2 separate regions of the Homo sapiens genome follow, and region 1 is linked to region 2. Evidence: fine-mapped expression QTL. A gene starts in region 2. The other region holds a variant in brackets. All regions are shown on one strand. Distances are from middle to middle. Region 1 overlaps LOC107984221 (a long non-coding RNA gene). Region 2 holds the start of PARD3-DT (PARD3 divergent transcript).

Region 1 (17,298 bases), 780 kb before region 2:
TCTAGTTTCCCACTGGCACAGGTACTGTAGGGTGAACCAGGTCAGTGCCATCCCACCCCAGCCACACTCACAGACTCCCCCTCACAAGACTTAGAGCTAAAAATTAACCACTGATACAAGGAAGAAATTTTCTGTTTTCTTCAGCTGAGCCTTTTCCTGCTCTTAAAGTCCCCAAACAGTCGTTCTTGGACTGCATTTTCAATTCCAGTTCAACTCAACTGCACAGCTCCCCAATGTCTTCTCTACCAAGACAGCATTCACAGTGCCCCCTGGAGTTTGTTTTTGAGGCAGTTGGGCTGGTTCTTCTATGCAGAGAGGCATAGCTTCTCTCCCAAGGGAGGAAAAGAACTTCCAAGCACTGTTCCCACCTCCGACAGTCCTAAGATCTTCCAAGATACACTGAATGGACACAGATTCATTCTCTCAATCATACCAAAATGATGCCTCCTCCCCAAGCCACAGGAGGGCATGCTGGCCAAAGAAGACCCCAGAGGAAAGTGCTGAACTAAACAGCTGCCTATTAGATGCAAGCAGGTCAGATGAGGCTGCAGGTTAATAGATATCTCACTTGTGAGATGTGCATCAATGCGCTTAAATCACATTCCCCAAGGCAGCAAAGACGGGCCCCAGTGTGGAATGCATAGACCCCCAAAATTCCACTTTCCACAGACTCGCGGACCCAGGCATCTTTGGAAATGGAAGTCACCTTAAAATATACTTAGTCACCTTCCCAACTTTCAGGTGAAATTAAGATGTGGCCAAGACCATCCAGCCTCAGTACAGAGCTTAAATGATATTTGCTATCCCTGACTTTTGATCTGTAACACATCAAAAACACACACAAAAAATTCAACTGTCCTGACTGTTAAGAAATACAATTATCTGGATAGCCCAATGTTAGCCCTTCAAGTGTTTGAAATTGTATTATTTTAACTTTTCTATGGAATTTTTTCTAAGGCACCCTTCAGAAACAGCAGAGGCCGGGTGCAGTGACTCACTCCTTCAATCCCAGCACTTTTGGAAGCCAAGGCAGGTGGATTTCTTGAGCCCAGGAGTTCTAGACCAGCCTGGCCAACATGGAGAAATTTCATCTCTACTAAAAATAGTAAAATTAGCCAGGCGTGGTGGTGTGTGCCTGTAGTCCCAGCTACTTGGGAGGCTGAGGTAGGAGGATCACTTGAGCCTGGGAGGCGGAGGTTGCAGTGAGCTGAGATCACACCAGGCCACTGCAGTCCAGCCTGGGCCACAGAGCAAGACCCCGTCTCAAAAAAAAAAAAAAGAAAAGAAAAGAAAAGGAAAAGAAATTGAGCAGAAAAATCAGGGGAATTGAGTTTTCTTTTGTGAAGAAAGCAAAGGACTCCACCATTGCTCACAGGTCCTGAGCAATATGTCAGGACACCCTTCATGTGATATCAGCTGCAATCAAATCCAACACATGTTCTCACCATCCAGGCAGGAAGGAATCATCCTCTTCTTTGTCATTGTTTCTAACAATGCCCTTTGACTTACTGATGCCTTTCAAAACATTACCAATAGTATCATGAACACAGTTAGTACCATAAATGTTCCCTGAGCACCTGCTGTGTCTTCAGCACTGTTCTTGGCACTAGGGAAATGGCAGAGAATGAAGTATAAAAATTCCTGCCCTCACTGAACTTACATCCTAGTGGGAAGAATTGACAAAGAACAAGATAAATGTCTTCAGCAAAATTGACTGTTAGTAATAAGTTCTAAGGAGGGTAGTGGATGCCAAGGTTTAATGGGGTAGCCAGTGTCCTAAGAAGAATACATTTGAGTAAAGACAGAAGCCGGTGAAGGGGCAGCCACGTGGACGTTATGACCACGAGCCCTCCCTGATGAATTCCTGCTCTCTTTTCTAATTCACTTGGACCAGTGGCTGCATGGCACATTTTGAAAATTACTAAAATGCCCTAAAATTCTGTATAGTGTATGCACATGGACCAAGTTACCTCCTGCAGCCTGTCTGTAACTCGTGTCACCTGTCCCTCGCAGGCTAAAGTGACACTACCCAGCAGGGACCTGGTGGAAGCATTCCCAGGCGTCGTTTTCTCTCCAACACACAGGTGTCCAGCAGGGGTCTCTGCACTGGCCACAAACACACTGTTCCTTTCACGGATGGGAATATTCATTTTTAGAGTCAAATCAATGAAAAAAGTACTCATCAAGCAGTCACTGGTAGTCAAAGAAGTAATTAGGAGAAAACAGCACAAAGTTCAAGGGTAGAGGACGTGGGTTCAGTTCTGGTTCCAATTGCTGACCAGTGTTTGACCTTCAGCAAATATTAGGTTGACACAGAAGTAATTATGGTTTTTGCCATTAATCATGACGTTGCCCAGGCTGGTCTTGAACTCGTGGCCTCAAATGATCCTCCTGCTTCAGTCTCCCAAAGCACTGAGATTCCAGGTGTGAGCCACCTCGCCCGGCCACAGGTTCTCTCTCTAGGTGAGTGGCACCAAGATCCATCTCACCCAAGCAGAAAACTAGTACTCAGTGTCCGTGAGGTATGTTTTAAAATTTCACTGCTTAAAGCTCTTCAGTGGCTCCTCACTGATGGTGCCAAACAGAGCTTGCCTGGCCCTGCGAGCCCTGGACTCCGCTTGCCTCTCGGGCCTCACCCTTTACTCCCCCCGACCCTGCAATGGCACTGACCTTGCACGGCCTCTGATCTCTGCTGCCTCTGAGACTTGCCACAGCCGTTTCCTCTCTGTGACTGGCTCCCAGGGATTTCTATCTCCTTTGCCCAAGACTGGGTTGGGTGTCCTCCTCTTGCGGTGCTCATTATGACAAGAAGCACATGCATTGTCAGAGCAATGCCTGCCCTGCCCAGCCTCTCTGCCCTGCCACCCCCAGCCCAAGACCATGTGAGGCTCTAGTCCTCCCTGGCCAAGATGTGCCTTTGCACTCACTGCCCCTCAGCTGGAAGTCAGCTCCACTTCATCAACAGTAGAGAGAATACGCTGGGAAGAGGTCCGGCCAGTCTCAGTCCCCCACGGATCCTGAATCTTTTTCACTCAGTTGTGAAACAGGGATAATCAAAGCTCCTACTTCTCAGGGTTGTAAGAGAATGAAACGAACTAACAAGTGTAAACTGCCCAGCACAGCAGAAACATCCGATAAATAGTAGGAAGAATTCGGTTTGCTTCGTATGTTTCTTTTTTTTTTTTTTTTTCTGAGACGGAGTCTCACTCTGTCACCAGGCTGGAGTGCAGTGGCATGATCTCGGCTCACTGCAACCTCCGCGTCCCAGGTTCAAGCAATTCTCCTGCCTCAGCCTCCCGAGTAGCTGGGACTACAGGCACACGCCACCACGCCCAGCTAATTTTTTTATTTTTAGTAGAGATGAGGTTTCACCATGTTGGCCAGGATGGTCTCAATCTCTTGACCTCATGATCTGCCCGCCTCGGCCTCCCAAAGTGCTGGGATTACAGGTGTGAGCCACCACGCCTGGCCTTCTTCTTGTCGTTCATACTTCTTTCACATGGTCCATTTTTTGTGTGTGTACAGGGCTGGCCTTTTTTGGCATGGCCAACCAACTGGAGTGGTTCTTTCTCTTTGCTCAGTGAATGAAGCAGTCACAACACACCAGAGGCTATTTCTCATGTCTCGAACCCTTCCTGATTCAACGTTCCCTGGCATGGGATGTTCACTGTCAACCATTCGGTCCTGACCTCTCTGTGTCCACAGCCCTTTCCAAAGCCTAGGGCTCCCGATGGCCAGACATTTGTCCAAATCTTAATTATCTGCAAAAGTGTGTTGCACTATTTCTCTGATGGAACAGATTCCATGACCCGCTGAGGCCTTCCAAGAGCACAGCTCCCCAGCAATCAGTGGCAGCACCCCTGAATGGAGGGTGCTTGTCCCACGAGCGCTAACACCCACAGGCAATGCACTGCCAGCCGGAGTTCTTCTGTGCTTTGCAACCAGCATTTCACAAATGGCAGCACTGTATGTTTGCAGGGAGGTCCTCTCTGCTTGGAAGCAGTGCAGGCTTTGCTTTTTCAAAATTTTAAGTTATCGTGTTTTATTCTCTTTGTTGTATATACCATTGAAGAAGTTAGTCTTTTTAAATTGACACATGATAATTGTACATAGTTATGAGTACAGTGTGATGTTCCAATACACGTATAGACTGTGTAATGATCAAATTGGGATAATTAGCATATCCAGCATCTCAAATACTTACCATTTCTTTGTGATGGGAACATTCAAAATCCTCTCCTCTAGCTATTTTGAAATATAGAACACATTATTGTTAACTATGTCACCCCACTATGTGACAGCACATGAGGACTTATTAAGAAAGCTTTCTTCTTACATTCTTTTTTTCTAAGTAGTAAAAGTAGATGGAGGAGGCCAGGCCCGATGGCTCACACCTGTAATCCCAGCACTTTGGGAGGCCGAGGCAGGCAGATCACCTGAGGTCAGGAGTTCGAGACCAGCCTGGCCAACATGGTGAAACCCCATCTCTATGAAAAATATGAAAATTAGCTGGGCACGGTGGTGCCCACCTGTAATCCCAGCTACTTGGGAGGCTGAGGCAGGAAAATCGTCTGAACCTGGGAGGCGGAGGTTGCAGTGAGCCAAGATCATGCCACTGCGCTCCAGCCTGGGTGACAGAGTGAGACTCTTTCTCAAAAAAAAAAAAAAAAAGTAAATGATTGTTTTCCTTCCCTTCTGGATAACAGGCAGGCAGCTTACGGACCCTGGGTAGGGCCTCCTGCCTCAACACACCTATGCCTCTTGTCTAACATCAAATATTAAATACTTGAGGTCTTCTGGCTTTTAAGGGTGATAAAAATTAAAATCTCTGGGAGAGGCAACTCACTACGTCTTATCAGTCATCTTTACTATGGTGTGAGTTAGAAACACTGCTCCTGGAAGCAGGCCTTTCTGTGAAGGTAAGGGCCTGGGGTGGAGAAGGGGGCCAATGGGATGTCACGGATATTTTCCCATGCTGCAGAGCTCCAGCATCACACAGAGCAAGGCCAAATTCAGGATTAGTGAGTCCTCATATCGACCTCCTGTTCATTTTTACGTTTTAGACAATAACTGAAAGAAGGAAGGAAAGGGAAAGAAAGAGAGAGAGAGGAAGGAAGGGAGGGAGGGAGGAAGGAAGGAAGGAGGGAAGGAAGGAAGGAAGGAAGGAAGGAAGGAAGGAAGGAAGGGAAGGAAGGAAGGAAGGGAAGGAAGGAAGGGCGGGAGGGAGGGAAGGAAGGAAGGGTTGGGGGAAGGGAGGGAGGGAAGGAAGGAAGGAAAGAAGGAAGGAAGCAGGGAGGGAGGGAGAAAAGAGGAGAGGAAGGAAGAGAAGAGAGGAAGGGAGGGGAGGGAACAGAGATACAGGCAGCTGTGATCATGGTGACTTCAGCATCAGATGATTAGTCTTGTTAAGAGAGAGGAACTAGTCCACGTTTTCCCTCTGTGTGTTCTCTTTGTTCTCTGCCGTGAAATATTAGAAGAGGGAATGAAGGAATTCAATCCATTTTAAAACTCACAACTGTTAGATGCCAACCCTCCAAACATTCACAGCCACTTTGATTCAGGACGAGGTTTGTTCCAAATGCGGATATATTCAGAAGGGCCAGACAGTAGTGTCTTGAAGCACAGGCGACAGCTAATTTATCTCTGAGCTAATGTCCCACCCTGTGGGACAATTTGTTTTGTTTGGTTTGGTTTGGTTTTTTAGAGACAGGGTCTTCCTCTGCCGCCTATCATCACTCAGGCTGGAGTGCAGTAGCCCAATCACAGCTCACTGCAGCCTCAAGCTCCTGAGCTGAAGCAATCTGCCTGCCTTAGCCTGAGTAGCTGGGACCACAGGCACACACATCACCATGCCTTGCTAATTTACTTATTTATTTTTGTAGAATAGGGGTCTCACTATGTTACCCAGGCTGGTCATGAACTCCTGGCCTCAAGCAATCCTCGTTTGGCCTCCCAGAGTGCTGGGATTACAGGTGTGAGCCACTGCGCCCAGCTGCACCAGCAATTTGAAAGACAGGTGATCTCGGGAGGTCTTTTTAATTCAAATTTTCTCTTAAGGAACACAAATGAAAGGAAGGTAGGGTACATTCCATTTTGTTTGCTGCAATGCAGTGGCTATGGCCTGGATCTCCACGGAAACCAGCAATGCAATTACCAAGCTCTATTTCCAGATGAAAGCAAAGACAAACAACAAAGTAGGAAAATTAAGTATGAGAAAAACGGACAACAGCTTCAAATCGACTGGGTGAAGGGACAGAGTTGGATCTGGTGGCACCACTGTCGTAAGGATCACTTTTATACCCATGAGTGTGATCTGGGTCCCCCGTGAGCCACCAACCCTGGTGGGTGCACATGCACTTCACTTCTGTGTTCGATGGTCAAGGCCACCCAGCCGGTGAGGGGAAAAACTGGGCCTGACATGGACGCTCCCCACCCCATATGCCACAGAAGTGTGACGGCCTCAGCCTAAAGAGGACCCATTCTGTGAGGCAGCTACAGGAGAAAATGGAAGGAGCCTTTTGCTTTTGCTTTTCTGTTGTTCTGTTTTTCACTTCCCTAAAGGAAGGAATGAGAGTTTATTATTGAGTGTTTCTGAAAAGGAATGAGAGTGGCCTTCAACAATAACACACTGAGCATCTGCAGTGTGCCGGACAATGTGTCGGGACTGCGAACAGGTAAGACGCAGGCTTTCCCCTGTAGGAGAGGGAGGCAGTTGAGTGTACTTCCAACAGCAAGAACAGTGACCAGCTTCCCATGTCCCCAGAGGCAGAAGACATGGCCGCATAACAATAGTGAATAGTAAGGTCTATAATAGAGTATGAAGAGAGCAAGAAGGAGACAACTAGGGCTGTTTTCCTTCTTGAAGTATTAGCGCTTAGCCTTACAAAGGTTGAGGGAGCTGCATAGTCATCCCTGCTAGTCCAAGTGTCTACATGCCCCCCACGCTAGGGTCTGCCGGAACCCACGGAATTGGAAATCTAGTGGAAACTCATGTTAACGTTACAGAAGACCTCCTTTGGGGTTCCAGTTAGGCTTGTCCCACAGTGGCCACCCCGTTTTTCTACCCATTCTCCAAGCAAGTGGTGAGCTATGAGTGCACTCACACGATGAAGAATGGTATTTGCATTACACACACACGCCTGTGGGTGAGGTAAGTTAGAGAGAAGAAAATAAGTCTCTGTGAGATTTCACAACTGCCTAACACCACGCAGGCTGTAGATGACAAGGCTGGGATTCTATCCCAATTGATTTGACTCCGAAGTCCATATTCTTCCCACTTGACACAAAGAAGCCACTGGGAGACCCAGGGAGAGCGTCATGGAGAAGCTCTCATTGTCAGGCAAGACTATAAGAGACAATCTTTGAGAAGTTGCTTCTCCTTTCTGGAACAAGCTAAGATCTACAGCAGGCATGCTGGCAAGCAACTTCAATCTTTCTTGGAAAGAGCTGGCATAAGAAAACTCAACGGATGATTAAAAGGCAACACAGAGCCCTTCTTGTTAGCTCAGTTTGGGTTTATGAAAAGACTCTGTTAGGGTAATCCATTCTAATCCCAACACTACCTCCAGGCAATTTCCTTGGGAAATGGGACTGAATTTTAAAAGATTAAATGTGTGTATATAAAGCATATATATAAATGATTTTCCCAAGGGGTGGCTCCTCTCTCATCCTAAGTGAGGCCTTGCTGGCTTAACTATAACGAGTGCGAATCACCCTGAACACTAATCCTTTTCCTTTTTCAAGACGTATTCTTCATAATGTGAGCGCACTCATAGCTCACTACTTGCCTGAAGAATGGTAGAAAGTGGGGTGGCAGCTGCAGTATAAGCCTAACTGGAACCCCAAAGGAGATCGCTAGTCCCATGTCTTCTGTAATGTTAACAATGAATCTCCACTAGATTTCCAATTCTGTGGGTTCCGGTGGACCCTAGGAGGGGCTTATGTAGACACTTGAACATAGCAGGGATGACTAAGCAGCTACCTCAAACTTTGTAAGGCTAAGCACTAATACTTCAAGATGGAAAACAGCCAACAAGAGCTTAATGATTTATTGGATTCAAAAATGGAGAGGCAAACATTTAAGGAAAATACAACATGACACATGTCTTTTAATCTTTTAATCTCTGTGCGTGTGTTCTGTATTTCAACCCTATTTGAGCTTCTTAAGACCAATGTCGAATCTGTTAAAGTGTTTTCCTGTCACCTAGGTTAATGCCCAAGGATAGTGTACTTAATAAATTTATGTTGATAAAAATCACCTTGCAAATATCTGTGTGGAATTTTTCTTTTTAATTTAAAACAGTAGATATAGATGTTATTTCCTGATTGGCCGGTTTTATGTATTTTGAAGTTTTGTTATCAGGTGC[G/A]TACGTATTAAGATTTGCATGGCTTCTTGATGAATTGACCTTTTTATCATTATGAAATGTCCCTCTTCATCTCTAGTAATATTTCTTATCCTGAAGTATATTTTTCTGAATCAATGTAATGATTCCACTCATTATATTTGTTTTCTTTTAAATCCTTTACCATATTTAGAATAACTGGTCTAAAGTTCCTCATCTGTAAATTCCATCATCTAGATCTATTATTTCTGAATCTATTTATACTGACTGATTTCTTTCCTTATTATGGGTCACATTTTCTTGTTTCTTAATCTGTCTAGTTGTTTTTATTGCATGCTGAACATTATATGTGTTATGTTGTTGAATGTCTTGATTTTATCTTCCTTTAAACAGTGTTAAATTTTGGTTTGGCAGGCAGTTAAGTTGTTTGTGTATTACTTTGGTCTTTCCCAGGCTAATTTTAAGCTTTGTTAAAACGGGTCTAATTTAGCCCTACTATCAGGGTTTTATATTTCCTGAGTCTTGACTGAATTTCTCAGGTGTTTAAGAAGATCTCCCAACTGTAGCTAGTCAGAACTTAAATATCTCCTTGCCCTGTGTGAGACTTAGAATTGTTCAGCTTAAAGCTTCCACTCAAAGCTGTTCATTTCCTGACTTAGAAAGTTCCATGCTTTGCATGCACAGTTTAATATTCAGCCCAAGACTCAAGAGGACTTCGACGTAGATTTCTGGAGTTCTGCATAGCTTCCTCCTCTCTGTGTCTCGCCCTACACACCTCAGCTGTGCCAACCTCCCTAATCTCTGATCTGTGGCTTCTCAACTCAGTGAGACCCCTCTGCCCTACCTGGATACTTCCTGGATGCCATTCAAAAAGTGCCTCCAGGTAAAAGCTCAAACTATCATAGGACTTACTTCATTTCTTTCCATTGTGTCAGAGAGCATGATCCTTTGCTGCCTGTTTTCAATAGCCGAACATTATTGCTTCCCATATTTTGTCTAGTTTTTTAAGTTATTTGCAGTGGGACGTCTAGTCCAGTACTATTTATTCTATCTTGGCCATGAGCAGAAACCTCTGCCTGATCATCTGCATCAACCTCGATCCCAGTTTACCTTTACCCTGGGGATGCAGAGATATAGTAAGATACTTCCTCCCATGAATCTGTAATCTGTCTTTGCTATATGAAGATGTGTGCTTGCCTCTCTGCAAGCAACCTGAAATAAAATATTCTAACCAGGCCATGAAAATGATAAAGTCAACCTGGACATGATCATGTATGGGGCAGATTGTGTACACTTAGGAAAGAAACAAAAATGAAAAGTAAGAGAAAGGAAGAGCTGGAAAACCAAGGAGAAGAGAAGGAAGAAGAAAAAAAAATCACAAAAACAATAATGCCATGATCTGAATGTTTATGTGCTCCCCAAATCCATATGTTGAAATCCTAACCCCCAAGGTGATGTGATATGAGGAGGTGGGGCCTTTGGGAGGTGATCAGGTCATGAGGGTGGGGCACTTATGAATGGGATTGGTGCCCTTATCAAAGAAGCTCTGGAGAGCTGCCCTGCCTCTTCTGCCATGTGAGGACACAGCAAGAAGTTGCTGGGTCTAGGAACCACGAAACACCCTCACCAGACACTGAATCTGCTGATGCTTTGACTTTGGACTTCCCAGCCCCCAGAACTGTGAGAAGTAAATTTCTGTTGCTTATAAGTCACCCAGTTCATGGTATTTATTAAATAGCAGCCTGAATGAACTAGGACAAAGAACAGACATGGAAAATGAACTAGAATTTTAACTCTCCATGACTTAAGTTTTACAAAAGAATAAGACTCTGCTTCCAGCCCTGTGGCTCTCCAGAAATGCTGTGGGCATTGAGACATGGATTAGAAATAGAAACCAAAATATTTCTGTTTTCATTCATTGAGTTTTCTCCCATTTGCAAGGAAAAGCATGCTTATGATAAGAAATCCTTATACTAGCAAGAGTAAACTATTGCTTTTCTCAGTGACAAAGGTTGTTTTGTTCTATTTTTTTTTAATCTTGCATGCCATACTGTTTATTACCTCCCATTTTCAATTATTATTATTATTATTATTATTATTATTATTATTTTGACAGGATCTTGCTCTGTCACCCAGGCTGGAGTGCCATGGTGCAATCATGGCTCACCGCAGACCCAATCTCTTGGGCTCAAGCAATCCACTTGCCTCAGCCTCCTGAGTAGCTGGGACCATAGGCACGTGCCACCATGCCTGGCTAATTTTTAAAATTTGTGTCGAAATGGGGTCTTGCTATGTTGCCCAGGCTGGTCTCAAACTCCTGGGCTCAAGAAATCCTCCTGCCTCAGCCTCCCAAAGTGCTGGGATTACAGGCGTGAGCCATCACAGCCAGCCTGCCTTCTATTTTTCAATAAATAAACTATAAACTTGGGGCTCTCAGCCTTTACAGGTGAGGAAACATCTTGGTAATTCAACACCTAATTCTCCCCCATGCCTGAAATTCCTCTCACAATGCAGGCATTACACCCCTGTCTCTGTGAGAGACGTCATGAGGCACAGAGAATAAAACCCCTCACCATGTCTTCTGTAATGAGGGTAACATACTGTCCATTTCTTTATGAAGAATCCCCTCTCTTCCCTTCAGATTGCAAATCAAAACTTGATGGCCTCCTATGATTGTGAAAATATTTTAACTTAACAACTGAAACAAATATAAAGTTCTCAAAGGAAGCAGTGAATTTTGGCACTGGAATGAAAGTAGGTATAGAGTGCTGGAGAGTCCAAAGAGTTGAGCCTGTTTCTAAAGCTGGGCCGGGTGCAGTGGCTCACACCTGCAATCCCAACACTTAGGGAGGCTGAGACTGGAGGATCACTTGAGCCCAGGAGTTTGACAGCAGCCTGTGCAACATGGCAAAGCTCCACCTCTACAAAAAATACAAATAAAAAGAAATTAGCCAGTGTGGTGGTGCATGCTTGTCATCTCAGCTACTCAGGAGGCTGAGGTGGGAGGATCACTTGAGCCCAGGAGGTCGAGGCTACAGTGAGCCATGATCATGCCATTGCATTCCAGCCTGGGTGACAGAGCAAGACTCTGTCTTAAACAACAAACAAACAAAAACAAAAACAAAAAACAGCAACAACAACAAAAATAAAATACTTGAGCTGAGCTGATTGATACAGCTACTGCACTGTAGCTCCATTAGCTTCTGCAGCAAAATGCCTTCCTCTGTGCAGTTTATGACATCAATAAATAATTGACCCTAAAAGCAACAGGTGTGGAGTTCTTCCTTCTATTTCTAACTTCTTACTTAGCTGTTAAAAAACAAAACCCATGCTGTTGCCAGAGTGATCAAAAACAGAAGGTCTTTTTCTGACAAAAGACAGATGGGTTGAAATTAACTGTGCCTTTGTTTATGTCATTTTGGTTTTGGCTCAGTTTGTTGTTGTTGTTTTTTAAGCTCTTATTCAATGAAAGCCTTAGCAATGAACTGAAACAGGATGGAAATTGCAGGGCATTTCTACCATTTCTCAGGAACAACCAAACTCTAAAAGCAGTTGCTTTCTGTTTCTCTCTCTTTTCTGTTAAATTGGATACTGAGGCAAACCAGGAGCTGAAGATATCCAAAGTTCTCTCAGAGTACAGCACTTTCAATATGGCCATTGGGAGCCATTATTTAAGGGAGCAAGGACAGGATATGCATGAGCTTCTGACAGTAACTACACAGATATGCTTCTTCTCTTTGGAGCTGAGAGGAGAAAAGGATGGTTTCGGGCAAGAATTCCTTTCAGCCCCCACAGGAGGTCATTTTCTGTTCCTGCACTTACAGCTCCATCCACCATTTTCCTTAGTGTAAGGGGGGGCAGCTCAGAAGGAGTTAACAGCAACTTGGGAGGCTGAAGCAGGAGGATTGCTTGAGCCCAGAGTTCAAGACCAGCCTGGGCAACATAGCAAGACCTCCATCTCTACAAAAAATAGAAAAACAAGTTAGCCAGGCGTGGTAGTACATGCCTGTAGTCCCAGCTACTCAGGAGGCTGAGGCAGGAGGATTGCTTGAGCTCAGGGGTTCAAGGCTGCAGTGAGCTATGACCATGCCACTGTACTCCAATCTGGGCAACAGAGGGAGAACTTGTCTCTTAGGAAAAAAAAATGTGGTAACACTCGCTGATTCTGGGGCTGGTAGCAGATACAGGAGCCAGTCGAGACCTGAGGGGTGGGGTGTGTGTCCTGATCCACACACTCACAATGAGGATGTGCCCAGAGCCAGGGTGGGCCTGGGCCTGCTGTTGGGTGGAGCCCTAACTAGGAATGGTCCTGGGACCTCAAGGAGCCCTGCACGCCGGGCCACATTGTACTGGGCCCCATCTTCCTTCATGTGAGCCTTGCCTTCTTTCTGTTCCCTGACTGCCACTCTAAAGTGCAACCTAGAGAGGGAGACAGCTCAGATGACCTTAGCTATGACAACACCAGCAACTGACAGAGATGGAGAGGGAGGGGTGTTCTCTTCAGATGGAGAGGTACATGCAGAAAGAAAACCACATGGCTGGCTGGGTGCAGTGGCTCAAGCCTATAATCCCAGCCCTTTGGGAGGCCAAGGCAGGTGGATCACCTGAGGTCAGGAGTTCAAGACCAGCCTTGGCCAACATGGTGAAACCCCATCTCTACTAAAAATACAAAAAATTAGCTGGGTGTGGTGGTGGGCACCTGTAATCGCAGCTACTCGGGAGGCTAAGGCAGGAGAATTGCTTGAACCTGGGAGGTAGAGGTTGCAGTGAGCCTACATCGTGCCACTGCACTCCAGCCTGGGCAACAGAGTGAGACTCCATCTCAAAAAAAAAAAAAAGAAAAGAAAAGAAAAAGAAAACCACATGGCCACGGCCACCTAAGTATTTGTAGTCTCAGGAGAGAGGACAGAGAGAGAGAGAGAGAGAGAGAGAGAGAGAGAGAGAGAGAGAGAGAGAGAGAGAGAGACAGACAGAACTCCCAGACAGAACTGGTTGATTCAGAGAGGACTTCGGAAATCACTGGCTTGACTCCTTCAGACATCAAGAGCAAAAATGAAGCTGAGAAAAGTGCTGTAGGCTGAACAAGTCCCCCCAACATTCATCTGCTAACGTCCTAACCCACAGAACCTCAGAACGTGCCTATATTTGGAGACAGGGTCTTTTAAGAGGTAATGAAGCTAAAATGAGCCCATTAGGGTGAGCCCTAATACAATCTGACTGGTGTCCTAAGAAGAAGAGATTACGACCAGAGAGAGACACCAGGGAGGTGCGTGCACAGGGAAGATGCTACAGGCACCGGGGGAAGCCGCCATCTGCGAACCAAGGAGAGAGTCCTCGGGAGAGACCAACGGTGCCCACACCTTTGTCTCGGCTTTCTGGCCTCCAGGACAGTGAGAGGGTGTTTCTGCTGCAGAAGACGCCCAGTCTCTGAGGTATTCTGTTCTTGTAGCCCTAGCAGAAAGTGAGGGAATTTGCCCAAGATCACAGAAGAATCTGGACTCAGAGCTGCCTCTTCCAGGACCGTGGTCTTTCCATTTAACCCAGAGCTGACCACACACACACACACACACACACACACACACACACACGTAGGTACATGCAGGAGCCTCACACTTCCAGAGGGTGTTTTTTGTATAGTCCTCTGAAGGCACAGGGACCTCTGAGGGAGGAAATTGTGTGAAATTCAAGCAATACTTATTGTGGTCACAAGAAACCTGACCCTGGACACTCAGATCAGAAGCAGAACTGGTGGTGCAGCGAACACCCTACCCTAATTCTGATCTCTTGGGGTACAGGCATTTTACATAGGGGTGTATGGGGGCGTGTGTGACAGAGAGAGAGAAAGAGGGAGGGAAGGAGGGAGAGTGAGCACACACCACCGGGGAGCCTGAACACACGGAGGCTGGGGTAAGCTGCAGGCTGTCTCTTCTCTGCCAGCTGTTTCCAGGCTGTTCTAGAGGGCAGGTGCCTTTGCTGTCACCACCGAACACGCCCAGGCTGAGAACAAATGCTTGTGTGTTCCTGTGGTGCCTGAGAGCTTAGATCAAAGATATTTTTGAAGGACTTTGCACAAAGGAAGAAGAAATAACTTCAGCTTACCTCCAAGCTACTTGGATGCCAACTCCCTAAGTCTTTGGGTGTTCCTCCAATGCAGAACTTCTATGGGGTGCTCACACCCTTCACATTCGGTCTGAGTTCTCCACACCTCACCCTTCCCTCTGGGCTCTTTACGCAGCATCAGGTCCCAGCTCAGCCTACCTTGGAGCATTTCCAGCCCAGTTTCATGGGACAGTCATTTCCCTTGAAGTCGGGTTGGCTAATGTATTTCCACTTCTGTAGCTTTTCTCCATACAGTGTCTCCCCTGACTTCATAATAGCACTCACTTGGCTATTTACAGAGTATGTTTTCCACCACCAAAGACCCACCTGTGTTCCCATGGGGCAGGGGTGGGCGCTGGGAAGTTCCTGCAGACCACCTTCTGCTCAGCCACTTCCAATCTCTTGCAGCCATTTACTCTTGGTGGAAGAGTCAAAATGCAACCTTTCTGAGGTGACATGCCTTCACAGCATGTCTGCGACCAGTGTGTGTGATATGTTTGAGTGTTCAAACTTTATTAAGTTGCTAGTTTTAATTCAGTGAGTGGCACATGTGGGCATGGTGCTTGGCACTAGGGATACTACGGGGCCAAGCCTCTGCCCAGGGGGTCTCCATGTGGAATGGGATGCAGGAAGGTACCTGCAGGTCAGCAGCGCAGCAGGGTGCAGTATCCGGGTTAGGGCTGTTTCTGAAGGAGAGGCGTGGCAGGCTCCGAAGGGATGCGAGGGTCGCCAGGCTGTGATGGGCAGGAAGCAGCACATGCAATGCCCTAAAGCTGGGAGTGAACCTGCGGGGTACCGGGCACTGTGTGCAATGCAGGACAAACAAAGCCTGGGCGGGAACAAGGTGAGGGTGGAAGCAGGGCCCTGTTTGGTCCTGGGACAGTGTGGGTTCTACCCGATCGACAATGGAAAGTCACTGAAGGTCTCCATTGGAGGTGACACAGTCGGATCTGCATTTGAGGAAGATGGCATCACCTGTTGTGAAGAGAAGGACCCAGAAGGCGGCAGCGGTGGAGGTGAGTGCCCCTCAGGCTGCCAGGGATGGAACCCGGGGGTTCTGAGGAGGCCAAGTCCAGAGCGATGGGCATGAGTGAGGGTGGAGACAACCCAAGGGGAGGGAGCCTCCTGGCCCAGGCACCCAGGCAGATGGGGTCCCTCATTAAGAAGGGACAGGTGTGGGACACAGGGCCAGGGAGTGGGAGGAAGGGTGGCCTCCGTCAAGTAGAGGTGTCTGACAGACGGATGTGAGGACAGCCTGAGCTAGAGACAAAGCCCTGGAAATACTCGAGTAGATGAACTGCTGTTTAATGACCTGTCCATTGGAGGCATTTCGTGGTTCTTCAAAGGTAAGCTTCCATCTTTATCACTTGTATCACAGGCTCTCACCAAACGCAACTTCCCTTCTTGCAGATGCAGTGGGACCTTGATTTCTCACGAGGTGTCAGCTTTTTTGTGGAAGGTCTTGTTGAAGTGGAGATGTCCATTAACCTAACCCACCATAACACATCTTTTCCACACCTTTGATTTTCCGGTCCCACCGCCTCCCTTCATTCCTCTTTCATCCTCTTCTCTCCAAATGCAGCTGCCCTGTTTGCACCCTCAGCTACCTGTTCAAGTCTTTCCAAACAAGCATGAGGTTACGCACCTTGGGCAGCACGACAGGTTGCTACATCAACTATTTTTATCATCCTCTTTCTGCCATAGGAAGCTGGAGCAATCTAGTCTTCGGGCCTGGGCCCTCCTGGGTTTTGGTGAAGAGCCATCCTCCGTGGGTGGCAATTGGTTTGCCTGGGTTGGCTTCCTCCAAGAAAAGCCAGAGGGCTGGAATCATTCAGACCTCCTGAATCCACAGTGAGTTGACTCTCACAAATGAGTGAGCTCATGTAAAGCACCCTCATCTGTAACATTCTACCATCTCCCCCAATCGCCAAGGAATGCAGGTCCTGAGCATCCCGCCTGGGGCTCGGGCTCTAAAACAATAAACTGCAATGCTGGGAAGTTGTGCGCTGTGCCCAGTTGCTCCGGTTATTTCAGGACATTTTCCTGCTCACAGGCCTGATTGCCAGTACGTTTCCGTAGGGGCACCCGGTTGTCCGTCAACTCAACTTGTTTACTCTGACAAGTTTCATGTACAGGCAGAATGTGATTGGGAAAGACGTCTTCATGTCATTGAATACCGAGACTCTTCTAATTTTTATAACAGATTACACAGAGAACAAGATGCATAAGTATATGAAAATATTATTCACAAAATCAAAGATATTTCAACAGCTAGAGACGTTCAAATTTCCCCAGGATTTGGTTCAAAGAGATTGATCATTGACATTCAGGGGAAGCTGCATAAAGGCCATCCCTGATCAGGGAAAGTAGCAGAATGAGGTTGGTGTTGCACTGAATTAGGCTGATTGGGTCCCATGGATGTATTTTTCCTGTGGGCCAAATTTGTATTCTCTGTGAAGTAAAAAAAACAGGCCCGGGGAAATGAAAATGGCATGGGGAAGATTTAGAGCCTGTCTTACCTTGTTCACATTAAATGTTTTTATTGTAGCAGAGTCCTTGGAGCTTATATTTGTGACACAATTATAGCGTTACAAAAGTTTCAGGGAGGAATACGTCAAGCAATTTGCAAAAGTAAAGGTCCTGTAGTGGAGATAATAAAATACAGAACTTCAGTATACTCTCTTGTGAGCAATCTAATAAAATACAGAACTTCAGTATACTCTCTTGTGAGCAATCTCTGCTGCTGACTAGTGAGTAAAAAGATGAAATGTTGTAATTGGACCTAAAAACCTCAAGCACCAGCTAAGCACGGTGGCTCATGTCTGTAATCCTAGCACTTTGGGAGGCCAAGATGGGA
Region 2 (14,661 bases):
TAACTGGCATTTATATTTTATTTTATTTATTTATCTTGAGACGGAGTTTCACTCTTATTGCCCAGGCTGGAGTGCAATGGTGCCATCTCAGCTCACTGCAACCTCCGCCTCCTGGGTTCAACTAATTCTCCTGCCTCAGCCTCACCAGTAGCTGGGATTACAGGTGTCTGCCACAACACCCAGCTAATTTTTTATATTTTTAGTAGAGACGAGGTTTCACCATGTTGGCCAGGCTAGTCTTGAACTCCCGACCTCAGGTGATCCACCTGCCTTGGCCTCCCAAAGTGCTGGGATTATAGGCGTGAGCCACTGTGCCCGGCCCTATTTTATTTTTTGAGATAGTGTGTCACTCTGTCGTCCAGATTGGAGTGAAGGGACATGATCATGGCTCACTGCAGCCTCAAACTCCTGGGTTCAAGTGATCCTTCAGCCTCATAGCTGGAACCACAGGTGTTTGCCACTACACCCAGCTAATTTTTAACTTTCGTATAGATAGAGTCTCACTATGTTACCCAGGCTGGTCTCAAACTCCTGGGCTCAAGTGATCCTCCTACCTCAGCCTCCCAAAGTCTGCAATTACAGGCATGAGCCACCATGCTCAGCTAGAACTGGCATTTATAAAGCATCACCACGAAGCACCTCTTCATATCACTGGACTTTCCAAATCCTGCCTCCAGTCAAGGTGGCCCGCCAGAAAGTGAGTGGCTGAGGTGGCTTTATTCCACTCTGCTGCACATTTGTCTTTAACAGAGTTGAGTGTTAATATCACCTGCTCTGCCAGCCTCCACCTTGTTCTGCCAACTTTCATGGACTTCACCAACAAGCTACCTCATTCTTCAGCTCTGGGACCTGGGAAGGAGGGAGATATTTGACTGGGGACTTGGGCTCTGAGTGGTGGGTCATGGCAAACATGGGTGCTTACTTTCTGCAGGGATGGGCCTTTTCTGGCATTCTGAGGCTGGGTGACACCGGGGCTTCTAGAAGTGGTGATCTCAGCCTGGACTCAAGTTTTTGCAAAGTGGGCTCTCTCAGCAGGGCAGTGCTGACATACCTTCCAGCAGTGTCTGGGAACCAGAACAGGAGAACGAAAATGCAGAGAAGGGCCAGGCATGGTGGCTCACACCTGTAATCCCAGCACTTTGGGAGGCTGAGGTGGGTGGATCATTTGAGGTCAGGAGTTTGAGACCAGCTTGGCCAACATGGTGAGACCCTGTCTCTACTATAAAGTATAAAAATTAGCCGGGCGTGGTGGTGCACGCCTGTAATCCCAGCTACTTGGGAGGCTGAGGTGGGAGAATCCCTTGAACCCGGAAGGCAGAGGTTGCAGTGAGCCAAGATCGTGCTACTGCACTCCAGCCTAGGCAACAGCAAGACTGCATCTCAAAAAAAAAAAAAAAAAAAAAAAAGGCAGTGGATACTTTGGTGATGGTTGCTGATGGACTGGTTGAGGGCAACCCTGGAATATTTTGAAGGGGGCTCTATTTGGGCAGGTGAGGACTTGGATATGTATTCCCAATGTGTCATGAAATTTTATGAATTACAAAAAAATTTTCATGAATTTTGACTCAAGACACCAAAGGCTCTGGCATCTAGAATTATGCAGTACTAGTTTTTCATCCATTATTAATATAAACGGAATCACTGCATCTAGATAAACTAGGTAGATTTAAATACAGCTGTAAGGCTTTATCTGGTTGGTGGAATCAGTGTTATTAATCCTCTGGATCATATTTTTTAAAAACATCCATATCCTTATTAGGTATTGAATAGTTAAAGGAATTGATGTACATAAAATGGTATCCACATATCCTGATGTCATCTCTGTTATGAAAGCTTCCCCCTTCTCTAGTACCGCCATAAACACTTTGCTGGCACTGAATATTTAATGTGTTGAATTATAGTTATTGGAATAGCTATCTTATTCTGACCTCTAGATTGTCCTTCTTTTACTCACCTTTATAATTCTGTAATATTTAGCCAGTGCTTCCTGCAAGGAAGGTCTTTACTAACTGCATGTGGAATCAAATTTAAGTGAATTGAGTGCAGGCCTGAGAGTCAGAGCTGGAGTTTTTGGTTGTAGTCCTAGCCCAGTCACTGGAAAGTTGTATCACCTGGCTAGTCATTTCTTTGAGCCTTGGTCTTCTCCTGTCCTCCTCATCTCTCCTGCCTCCTCCACTGTCATCATTTGCTATCCTGTGCTGGACTTTGTTACCCTCTGCCTTCATTACGGTAACTGGACTGTACTACGCTATACATTCCCATGTGGCAGCGTGGCAGCATGTACTGTTTTTTTTTTTTTCTTTTGAGACAGAGTTTCATTCTTGTTGCCCTCGGCTCACCGCAACCTCGGCCTCCTGGGTTCAAGCGATTCTCCTGCTTCAGCCTCCCGAGTAGCTGGGATTACAGGCATGTGCCACCATGCCCGGCTAATTTTGTATTTTTAGTAGAGACGGGGTTTCTCCATGTTGGTCAGGCTGGTCTCGAACTCCCGAGCTCAGGTATCTGCCCACTTCGGCCTCCCAAAATGCTGGGATTACAGGCGTGAGCCACCATACCCAGCCGTACTGTTTTCTGATACATTATTTTATTTAACATTCATAACTTATGACCAGGTGCCGTGGCTCACACCTGTAATCCCAGCACTATGGGAGGCTGAAGCGGGAGAATCGCTTGAGGACAGGAGTTCAAGACCAGCCTGGGCCACATAGTGAGACCTTATCTCTACAAACAATTTAAAAATTAGCTGGGCATAGTGGTATTTGTCTGTAGTCTTAGCTGCTCTAGAGGCTGAGGAAGGATTGCTTGAGCCTGGGAGTCTGAGGCAGCAGTGAGCTAAGATTGTGCCATTGCCCTTTAGCCTGAACAACAGAGCAAGACTCTATCTCAAAAAAAAAGAAAGACTGACTCATAACCTATGAGATCTATGAGATGGATATGGATATGATAAGCTCTACTTCTCTACTTTTCAGCTGATAAAACGGGCTGGAGAAAGAGTGACTGTTGTGTCTAAGGCACTAGTAAGTGGCCAAATATGGATCTGAACCTAGATCAGTGTGATGTCCTATGTACTCTGGTTATTACTGAAAAATGACTTTCGATTAGAATTATTTTGAGAAAGCCCCACTCTAATTTATTATACTCAAGCTAGTATACCCCTCTGAACTAGTGTAGCATCAAAACTAGTATACATTCTCTGCCGCGCGGTGGCTCACGCTGCAATCCCAGCACTTTGGGAGGCTGAGGCGGGCGGATTGACCAGCCTGGCCAGCATGGTGAGACCCTGTCTCTAACTGAAAATACAATAATTAGCTGGGCGTGGTGGCGGGCACCTATAATCCCAGCTACTCGGGAGGCGGAGGCAGGAGAATCATTTGAATCCAGAAGGCGGAGGTTGCACTGAGCCGAAATCACGCCACTGCGCTCCAGCCTGCGCAACAGAGCGAGACTTGGTCTCAAAATAAATAAATAAATAAATAAATAAAAATAAATACATAAATAAATGTAAAAAACACAAAATAAAATAAAGTAGTATACATTCTAAACTAGTAGTATACTCTCCCAATGCATGAAAACAGAAACAACACCTATAATTATCAGTAATTGTTGTTGTGGATCCAAGTATCTATGTAAGAAGCAAAAAACCCACATCAACAGTTGTTGTCATCGTTGTCACAAACTTAATTACTGGCTAGAAATGTCTAGTGCTGCAGCCAAACAGCAGTAGGAGGAGCCTTTCCCATGGCTGAGTGGAAGGAGGGAAACCTAGACTATTTCTGGGTCTGCCTTGAGCTTTCTCTGCCGCCTTGGGCAAGTGACTTTGGCCCTGGGTCAATGTCCTGGAGTAAGATGGGGCTAACACCACTGCACTGATTTGCTGGGACAGGTGGTGGAAAGTGGTGGTCCAGGGCTGGGAGAGGAGAGGAAGGGCAATGTTTCCTAGGAGAAACTGCACTATGCTGGGGCAGCTGCGGTGCTGCAAAGCGCAGGGAGTGTGGCAAGCGGACGAACCTCGTGTCTTGTTTCCTTGTTTTAAGATTGGAGGTGGAGTGGGATGGATGGTCGATCGCCAGCTCTTCCAGCTCTTAAGTGCTCAAGTTCTGCGCCAACCCAGGGGAGCTTGATTGCTTTCACGTGTCTTGGAAACAACTGGCAAAAAAGAATTTCACATAGTCTGGAAAGGGCTTGGGACAGGGACCACTCTTTGCAGACATTTGTCATTCTTTAAACATAATGACATACATTTATTAAGGACTCATAGTCCATAACTAAGACAAAATGAGCTTCAGTTACGTTCCCTAACTCGGTCCACGTTCCTTTAGAACGTCTCAAGCCCGCATGTCACTCATCGCGGAGTCGCAGCCTTCCCCTGGGTTCGGGCGTCTGCGTTAAGCGCCGGCACATCGTGGGGATCCCCGCGTGAGATTTCTCTGCGCCGTCGGAATAGACTGTTCACGGATTCGCGTTAGGATTCCTTATGCTGCAGAACTTCAAAGAAATAAATGTATCAGAATTGCGATGTTTAAGTTCTAATCTATTTAAGCGGGTGGGTCAGCAGAGGGTCAACAGGAAACTTCAAGGTAAATAGTGGCCTCTGGAAAAGGCCCGGTCGCTCACGGCTTCCCCACTGTCTCCCCAGAGCAGACTATTAATTCTTGCGTTTCAGGCAGAACTGCCGCTGCCGGCCCTGCAGCAGAGCTAGGGAGCGGGCAGGGCAGAAACCCAGCCGAGCAAGCTGCAGGCTCGAGTCCCCGCGGGCGGAGAGGCTCGGGCTGGAGCCTCCGGGGCGGTGAGGAGGGGACTCACCGCACTGAGCACAAACTGCTTTCCCCGGGAGCGCCTGCACCCAAAACCCTCCAGTTCGAGGAATGGGATTAAAAGTGACAAAGAAAGGGGAAGGGGGGCTCCGTGGAGACTTCTGGAGGCGTGGAAGGGGCGTCCCCGAGGAGGGGCGACGCAGCCCTGCAGGGTGCTGGGCGGGCGGGGTGAAGGGGGCTGGGGGGCGCCTGGGCCAGGGCTGGTGGGGGCAGACGGCCGCCTGCCCGTGCTGGCACTGGGGCGAGGGGTCCCGCGCCCCCGGAGGGAGGGAGGGAGGGAGGGAAGGAGGGAAGGAGGTCGGCCCCCGAGGGCGGTGGCGGGGGCGCGAGCTGCGGTCCTGCGCTCCGCCCCGCGCGGGTAGCCGGCCGCGCCTCCCCCTGCCGCATGTGCGCGGTGTTGTGTGCCCTGCCCTGCTCCTCCCCCTCCCCTCCCCTCCCCTCCCCTCCCCTCCCGCCGTCCCCTCCCCCAGCGGCCCCGAGCGAGCGCCAGCGCCACACAGCCCCGGGCAGCCGCCGGCGAGCGCGCCGCGACGCCGAACAGGTGGCCGGAGGCTGCGGGCGCCGCGGCGGGGAGAGGCGAGGCAAGCCCCGGGCGAAGCGAGGCGAGGCGAGGGCGGCCGGGCCGGGCATGCGAGCTGAGCGGCCCCCCGGCGTCGCCGCCGCCTGCCCGCGCCCCTAGCCGCCCGCGCGCCCGAGTCCCCAGCGGCTCCTCCGCGCCCAGCGTCCTCGGTCCCGGCCTCGGCTGCTCCGGCTGCGCTCGGCGAGGGGCGCGGGCCCGCCCGCGGCGGCGGCGGCATGAAAGTGACCGTGTGCTTCGGACGGACCCGGGTGGTCGTGCCGTGCGGGGACGGCCACATGAAAGTTTTCAGCCTCATCCAGCAGGCGGTGACCCGCTACCGGAAGGCCATCGCCAAGGTGAGGGGCCGGGGGCGCGGGCGGGGAGGGGGCGGCGGCGGGGACGGCGCCGGGATCAATATGGCGCTTCCTGGAAGGGGGAGGAGAGGCGCAGGGAGGCGGGGAAAGGGAAAGTGCGGCCGGTCGGGCCTCGCGGGCGCCCCCCGCCCCGGACTGCGGGCGCCAAAGTTCTCTGCGCGGGCCGGGGCGCAGCCTCTGGGACACCCAGCCGGGTCCCGCGGCCCCCGCCCTCACCCTCCGCCCGGGAGCTCCGGCCTCGGTAGCGCGGGGCGAGCCGGGCAGCGGCGCATAGGCCGGCCCTGGGCGCCTCCCCGGAGTCTGCAGACCCAGCCAAGCCCCGAGCCAGCGCGCGGGGGGCGCAGGCCGGGAAATCCAGCCCCAGGCCTTTCCCGGCTCCCAGGCCCCGGGGGCACAGGCCGGGGACTGGGAACTTTTGGTGTGAGGAGAGTTTCGTGACTGCCCTTCCGACAGAGGCGGGTTGCGAGCCTTCTGCCTCCTCTCCCTTACTCGGGCGGGGGCGGAACAGCGGCGGGGGGCTTTTCCTCCATGTCCCCTGCTGGTAGGGGCCGGCAGGGGCGGCCCGTCGCGTCCGGGGGCTGCAGGGTTTGGGGAGTCGCCGGCTTGGGGTCGGGGAGGCGTTCCCGGGAGGGCCACCGCTGGCACTTGGCACTCGCTTGCGAGCATTTACTGAGCTGATCCCACTTGCTGGGCTCTGGAAAGCACAACCTTGGAAGAGTCGCGGAATGAAAAGTTTTCCTGCGAGGACCTCAGCTCCTACCTATCCCGGGCTGGTTCCATGTGGCTGGGCTGCGGGGCCGGGCCTGACTTGGGAGTTGAGTGGATTTCCCTTTTTCCTGGTGGACTGATAACATTGTCTCCACTTCACAGCATTCCTCTACTGTGTGTCAGAAGTGAAAAGGCGTTTTGTTAAATTGTTTTACCGACTGTGTCTGTGTTTGACAACAGCCCACGCTGAAGTTTCTCCCAAGCACCCGGGGATATATTTCCTTTGTAGTAGAGTCCTCTTTGGTGGGGAGCGCATTCGTTTGGGTGCAGTATTTCCCATTTGTTCCCGACAGTGGCCTGGCCCCTGTGGGCTTGGGGGCTGCAAATGACGTTGGAAAGTGGCTTGGTCAGCCCTATTGAGCGTACACAGGGTACTCCGGTGGCATCTTCAGTTCTCTCAGAAATTAAGAAGTAAAAGCTTTTTAGACTTTTGTTTTGCTTTTAGTATATATTGGAAAAAATAGCATAAATTTGGCCTTTTAAAGATAATTTTGGGGGACGTTTGGAGACCCGACACAAGGATGGAAGACGTTGGCTTTAGTAGCTCTGTTATGTTCCTTACAGTTGAACTCTTTTATTGAAAATCAAATAAAATTAGTGGGAATTGGGCACCTGTTTATCTTGCAAAGCTGACAAAGGGAAAGAAAACCATCTAAATGGACATTTAGCATTTTTAAGTGTTGTTTATGTGTGACAGTTTATGCTTTAAATGTTCCAAAAGAGTACTCAAATTGTTCAGGCACTCTGGAAACCAACAAAACAAATTGTGCAAGGAAAGAGAAATAAAGTAATATGCACTCTGCAGTACGTCTAGGCTCCTGAATAGGAAGAGGGTGGTCAACATTTTCTTTCACTTTACTAATTTTATGTGATTAAAATTGTTTTACCTACTGTGTCCCATGTTTCATCCTGCACAAAATAGACATAGGCTGAACTGCCTGTTTGGCAGTAGTTCAAATGTAGTTGTTCCAGGCATTCGTTCCACAGAAATTCTGAAGCTTTGACTGTGTCCATGGCACTGTTCTGGGTGCTGGACATCTAAGGGACCCACTGGCTGTGAGAAGCTGAGCAAGAGGCTGCGGGGTCCTCCAGGTGAAGGAGCTGGTGATGACATGGGGAGAAGAGGTGGCCTCTGGGATGCTGGGTGGCTAGAGTGCAGGGCCTTGGTCACGGACCTGGTCCTTATTAACGATTAGCAGTGGTTGTTTCACAGGGCGTAGAAAAGGGAGTGCAGTTTTTTAAGGGTGTCTGGGAAGGTGTCACAAAGAGAAAAGGGGCCTATGAGCTGAAGGAAGGGAGGGTGATAGTGACATGGGAGTTGGAGATGAGAGGGAGGGTCAGAGATGGGTCAGGGGTTCCAACACTTACATGCTCTTTAAGTACAACTTAGAGTTCTGTAGGTGAATTTTAACGGGGGCTTTGCAGTATACCAAGTTCAGTCATTGGATCCCAAGATTGTTGACCCTTAAATGTTGCCAGAGCTGGAGTGTCTTCTAGGTCTCCTTTTTCTCGTTTTTCTTCTGAAATTGCTAGACAATGATTAAGATTAATTTTTAGTCTTTCTTACTACTTTTCCCATTCTATATTAAGTGATGAGGAAGTGTTAATATGTATTTAACACTGTTTTAACTTTTATTCTCTATCTGTTCCTTATCCGTATTGCCTAATAGAACAAGAGAAATTCTGTGTGAAGAATTGGGTGGCTGGATAGTTGTGGAGTGGTGTTTAGGTTGCTAGGTGACATGTGGCTTGATGAGCTCCCATCTGGTGGGGAAAAGTGTGGGCAGATCATGTTTATGGCTTTGGATAATAACCAACCAAGCCAAAAATAAAAAATAAAAAGGAAAAGAGAAAGGTCCCAACTCTCAAATCACCAAGGCTTTCTCTGCAGTAAACATTTTCTGGTGTGGTGGGGCTAATTTTCTGGCATTGCATGTGAGCTGTTTTCTCTTCAGATTACACAAATCAATTTTTCTGGATAGTGAAGTGTCATGATTTAATACTAGACATGTCCTCAGTGAGTAGATATTTGAAGGCTTATGCTTAGTCATGTGTGACATTTCTTTTTTCCTCTCCTGAAAGATGGTTTTGTGGTTGTGATCACTGATGGTTGGGAATAGCTGTTCATCCTCATCCACCCATCTGCATTAGGAGCCTCGCTGAGGACAGTGCGGTGCTAGACATTGGGAACCGCGTTACATGGACCGTTCTCATGAGGGCGCAGGATGGGAGGATGGACCGTGTCTGCATCTGTTCTTCTGCGCTTGCGACCTGACACGCGTGATTCCAGGTGGACATGGTGCTGAGCTGCAGCGCTGTGTGGGGTTGGTTGAAGGGCTGCTGTGTATAAAAAGTCATGCTCTATGAAAAAAATATAAGACTGAATTCGTGCAATTTTCAAAAAAAAGTATAATCTAGGAGACAGGAAGAATATATAACAGTATAAATAACAGGAGGTGGTAGCATTAATTGGCACCACTGTGATACAGTCAGTAATCGCTTCTGGATTTTGGAGGTGGGTGCTATCATTATGGGGTGTGTGTGGGAGTCTCATTTAGTCACTAGGATTTGAACTGGGCTTGGTTGGTGGGAAGGCTGACCTTGATATAGGGCAGTGCTTGCTAACTGGGTGAGGCACCTGCCTGCAGGGGCAGATGGGCTCTGGGTCTGAGGTCTGCAGTTGGGGTCTAGGTGTGTGAATCTGCAGAATGTCTGCTACGATTCTGATAAGTGAAAGGGAGGGCATTCCAGGAAGGCAGTATGGACAAAGGCGATTCAGGCATTCAGCCCAGGGGGTCAGGATCAAACTGAGGAGGACAGAATGCCAGGGCAAGACCCTGAGACTTCGTGCAGTAGGAAGGACTGTGGTGTTTAGCTAAGAGTCAGGGTAACAAGTAGTTCTAGGAGGATGACCTGAGCAACCTTAGATGAGGTTTGGATGGATAATTCCTTAGCATTTCATTCTAAATAAAGGTTGCTGAGTGACCAAAAGGGGAAGGAGAGAGTGAAGGGCAAAAGTGAGGGCAAGGAGGTGCTGGAGCCCCTTTGCTCACTGTTCCCACCTCCCTCATAGCTCTCCTCTCAGCCTGTAGGGGAGCTTTGGATTGGGTTTGGTGACTTAGGTTTACAAGCCATTTAACCTTGGGTATAGGGGAGCTTTGTATTGGGTTTGGTGACTTAGGTTTACAGGCCATTTAACCTTGGGTACACCAACCCTACGGAGCCCCATTATCTCAAGTGGAATATTCCCTGGCAGGGTTAATGTAAGTATTAAACAGGATGATGAGAGGGAAACTCTAAAGTCCTGGGCCCGGCCCATACTAGCTGCTCCGTAAAGATGAATGGAATCACCAATATGTTTTATCCACCAAGCAGTTTTACACCCAGGGAACTTTCCCAGGTGTCCCACTATTGCTGCTTGGATTTTTCCTGTTTACTTAAAAACGCAGCATGTAATTTCATTGAAGGATAGGTAAGAATGTGAGATTGAATGACGTGCAGCACCACAATCAGGAGAACAAAATTGTGTGTTGCATGTGTGTATGGGCTGGGGAAGTAAAAGCTGCGGGTATTGGCTTGATTACAGGTTGATTATTGGGGCCTCTGGCTTCTGTCCCCAAGCACATCACTTTAGAGTGATTTAATAGCAACCTGTTGTTATTACAGGTTGAGCATCCTTTATCCAAAATACTTGGGACCACACAAGTATTTTGGATTTTTCTGGACTTTGGGATATTTTTGTATATATAATGAGATAGGTTGAAGATGGAACCCAAGTCTAATGTATTGTTAGAATTTATGTTTCCTACGTACCTTATACACATAGCCTGAAGGTAATTTTATGCAGTATTTTTGTGCTTGAAAATAAGTCTGTGGTAAGTACTTACATGTGGAATTTTCCAGGTGTGGCGTCATGTGGGTGCTCAGTAAGTTTCAGATTTTGGAGTATTTTGGATTTTGGATTTTTCAATTAGGGATGCTTGACCTGTATTTTTTAAAAAGTTGAGCTCATGGACAGAAACTTTTGAAAATGTGCTTTTTTGGTGGCGGGAGACTGTTGATTAGTAACAATGACAGTCATGGTTTTTATGAAAAATCTTGTGGTTGGTATGGAATTTTTCTGTGAATAAATGTATGACTGCATGTTATTCATTTACAAGCGTATTGAAACTTTTAAGAAAATAGTTGTACTGTTGCAGAGATTGAAAGAAAATAGAGGCAAGCATAAAAATAGTGAAATGAAAGCAGCTTTATTTATTTATTTATTTTTTTAACATTTTCTGCCTTCCCTCTAAAAAGGAAAAAGAAACTAAACATTTTTGAAAGGCTGATCTTTCCAGAATTCAAGTCACATTGTCCTCTGGTGCTGAAGCGCCTTTGTCCCGCGTTCTCCAAGTCCTGCCTTCTGAGCACAGCCTGTCCCTGTAGGGACCCCTCTTGCCTTCCAGCCACTCCCTCTGCAGCTGCTCCACCCCCTGGGACTCACATACACTTTGCTGCCTCTGTTCTGGCATTTTCTGTTTCTTCTGCCTGGGACATTTGCTCCTTCCTTGCACTCATTCGTGAGTCTTAGCCCAGACAGCCATCTCCAGGAGGCTGGCTCTCCATCCCAAGCTGCTAGAGGATCTTTCTCCCTGCCTGCTGCCTCTCCTGGGGACGTCCTGGGTGTAGCTCCTGTACCGACTCAGATGCTTGGGCTGTGCTGTGTGGTTTTCAAGTGTATCCGTGCGCCCTTCCTCCCTCCGGGTGAAATGCTTGAAGCGGTGGCTGAGCTTCAGTCTTGGTGAATAGCCCGTGTCTGTCACATTGCAGTCAGAATGTTGAGTAAATAGAAAGCTGAGAATCAACATGTTACACTGCTCTCACACAAAAAATACACTTCTGCTGAGAGGACTATCATCAGCACTCGTGAATTTAAAGGACTTTAAGGTTTGGTGTGTTTGACCTACTGGCACAAACAGCTTGTAATGGAAACTAAGATTTAATGAGGTTTGGAGTACTTGGAAGTTACTCTTTCGTATCAGCTGTCTTGAGGGAGTTCAGTTTGTTTTTCAGCTCAAGCAGAGGACCCTCCTGGGATTCGCCTTGGGCGAGGTTCAAGGCAGGTGGCCAGGGCTGTGTGAGAATCTGGCCCTGGAACACACCTATGCTTGGTCTGGCGCCTCTGATTCCGTCAGTTGAGATGCTTGGCTGAGTGCCAGGACTAAGTAGGAATGTTTAGGATCTGAGATTCTCAGAGAGAATCTGGCGGATGTGAAGCGCTTCTTGGCTTGTGGTAGACATGGATAAATTGGTTGTGGAGGGAATATTTAAAGTCCCACTTGGATGCAAACCCACAGACGGATCCTCCGTCTGTCCTGGGAGGTTCTACCTCCCCACAGAGTTGGGTGCAAGTTGGTGATGTTGAGCTCCCCATAGATGATTAGAGCCCTCGGTATTTTTTATCAAGGATGGAAATAAACATGTAAGATTGGGCCAGAAGGTGCTTTCTATAGGTAATTTTCCATCGGGGGAGATGGCATGCTAAGCCCACACAGCATGCTTTCATCCTGCTTGGCCACTCGCTCAACATTCCTGGCTGGGACCAAGGTCAATGGCAGTAGAGCTGGACATCAGTAAATGTATACAGTTTTACCTGTTTTGGGTACCTTTTCTGTACAAAAGCAAATCTTTATCAAAATAAATGCCGAGTTCAGTGAATAAAGTAGAAAGATGACTGATTTTTTTTTGTCTTTTAGTCATTATTTACAAGTTTTTTCTTTCTTTCTTTTGTTTTTTTTGAGACAGGGTCTTTGTCACCCAGGCTGGAGTGAAGTGGCGTGATCTCTGCTCACTGCAGCCTCAACCTCCCAGGCTCAAGCGATCCTCCTGCCTCAGTCCCCCAAGTAGCTGGGACTACAGTTGTGTGCCGCCACACCTGGCTAATTTTTGTAGTTTTTGTAGAGACGGCATCTCGCCATGTTGGCTAGGCTGATCTCAAACACCTGAGCTCAAGCAATCCACCTGCCTTGGTCCTCCAGAGTGCTGGGATTACAGGCACGAGCCACCATGCCTGGCCTAAATTTTAGCAAATAAGTAAAAATAACTTTGTTTTAACTTATTTAGTAAATAAGTAAACATTTTAGTAAATAAAGTTAAAATAACTTTCGTGTATAGGTCTGTGCCTTCTTGCATCTGGCCTGCTATCTTTACGTGGTTTTTGCCATTTAAATATTACTTTTGTGTATTCCTTTTTTCTCCATCAACTCATATTGGTCCTTGCAAGTAAAATTTCAAGCTCCACATCCAAGTGACTTTAAATATCAATTATTTATTTTTTTCACCTAAACAGAGTATATTTTGTATATAGTCTCTGTACTCTATTCTGTATATATTTTATATATACTCTTTATATATATACACACACACACAAGCACACAAGAGAAATGAAAATGTGTACACAAAACCTGTACATCAGTGTTCATAGCAGCAAGCCCACATATTGTATAATTCTGTTCCTATAACATGACCAGAGTGGGTAGCTCTATAGAGACAGTAGAGTGGTGTTCCGCTAGGACTGGGAGTTTGGAGTCATGGAGACTGTGAATGGGTATGAGGTTTCCTTTTGGGATGATGAAAATATTCTAAGATCATGGTGATGGTTGCACAGTTCTATTCAAGTGTATACTTTCAATGGATGGAGTTTATGGTTATGTGATTATATGTCAATAAAGATGTTAGAAAAATAGACTGCATAAGCCACTATGAACAACGCTCCATTTTTAGGTATTTTGTAGTTCTGAGCATTTCATAAAATGACATATATATGTGTATCAGAGATGCTCAAAACACTTCAAATGAAAACTGGCTGTCTTTAGGAGTTTTCCATATAGTGTGGAATCCCTGCTTTCTCAGGCCTGTCCAATGTGTCCTGTTTAGTGTCTGGTAAGCTCCTGGCTGCTGAGCCTCCAGGTCCCCTGGTCTCTGTGTGCTACCCCCTACCCCCTCTAAGGGCTTCACCAATTGTTCTTTAGCCAGAGACTCCTTCTACCCAGCTCGCCAGCTACCTTTGTGCAGTGGAGGTTGAGAATGCCCCAAGGATGCACGTAATGGACCAGCCTTTCCAGCATTTGGCTTTGGCTCCCAGAAATTTTGAGCTTTGGCAAATCTTACAAGCTCTGTGAGCCTCTGTTTCCCCATGTTCTCATATTCAGAGGTGCTGGGCTGGACTCCCACTGCCAGTTCCCTGAGCTGTGCAGGGACTCCTGCTCTGCATGGTTTGTTTTGGTGCTCATGGGACCATAAGTGATGTGCAGTGGCTTTTCAGATGGTTATACAGGGTCCAGGACCTCTTACTGCTTCCCTCCATGCTGTGAGAATATTTTGCCTCACCCCGACCCCCCCAACTTTGAAATGACGGGGCTTGCTCTCCAGGTCAAATGGATGCTATTCAGAGTTAGGGTAAATTTTGCTTAGGGTTGGCTGGGTGAGAAGGCTCACGCCTGTAATCCCAGAGCTTTGGGAAGCTGAGGTGGGAGGATTGCTTGAGGCCAGGAGTTCAAGACCCAGCCTGGGCAACATAGTGAGACCCCGTCTCTTTTTAAAAAAATTAGCCAGGCATAGGCCGGGTGTGGTGGCTCACGCCTGTAATCCCAGTACTTTGGGAGGCCGAGGTGGGTGGATCACGAGGTCAGGAGTTCGAGCCTGGCCAAAGTAGTGAAACCCCATCTCTACTTAAAGTACAAAAAATAGCTGGGCATGGTGGTGCACACCTATAATCACAGCTACTTGGGAGGCTGAGGCAAGAGAATCACTTGAATCCTGGGAGGCAGAGGTTGCAGTGAGCCAAGATAGCGACACTGCACTCCAGCCTGGGCGATGGGGAGATTCATCTCAAAAAAAAAAAAAAAAAATTAGCCAGACATGGTTGTGTGCATCTTTAGTCCCAGCTGCTCAGGAGGCTGACGTGGGAGGATTGCTTGAGCTCAGGAGTTTGAGATTGCAGTGAACTATGATGGTGTCACTGCACTCCAGCTTGGGTGACACAGCGAGACTCTGTCTCTAACAGAAAAAAAAAATTTGTCTAGGGTGTCCTTCAGAATTTCCTTCCTTCTTCCTTTTTTTTTGTCTTTTTGAGACGGAGTCTCGCTCTGTCGCCCAGGCTGGA

The links. PIP is the estimated chance that this variant, and not a neighbour inherited with it, causes the effect.
Region 1: its variant is fine-mapped to the expression of PARD3-DT in esophagus mucosa (GTEx, PIP 0.97).

The regions. Positions count from the first base shown.
Region 1 is chr10:35,583,365-35,600,662 of GRCh38, reverse strand. LOC107984221 (a long non-coding RNA gene) reads right to left here. Exons shown (of 3, transcript XR_001747422.2): 2 at 16,961-17,081; 3 at 14,317-16,628. Among named protein-coding and RNA genes, the nearest start is that of GJD4, 13 kb to the left of the region's middle. RefSeq lists an enhancer at 5,746-6,388. The variant G/A (reference allele first, on the strand shown) is at 8,367.
Region 2 is chr10:34,805,944-34,820,604 of GRCh38, reverse strand. PARD3-DT (PARD3 divergent transcript) reads right to left here and starts at 4,837. Exons shown (of 2, transcript NR_108043.1): 1 at 4,804-4,837; 2 at 4,183-4,485. It overlaps PARD3 (par-3 family cell polarity regulator), which reads left to right and starts at 5,309. Exons shown (of 25, transcript NM_001184785.2): 1 at 5,309-5,729. The coding sequence starts at 5,610. RefSeq lists silencers at 4,961-5,010, 5,101-5,270, 5,791-6,070, 10,810-11,104.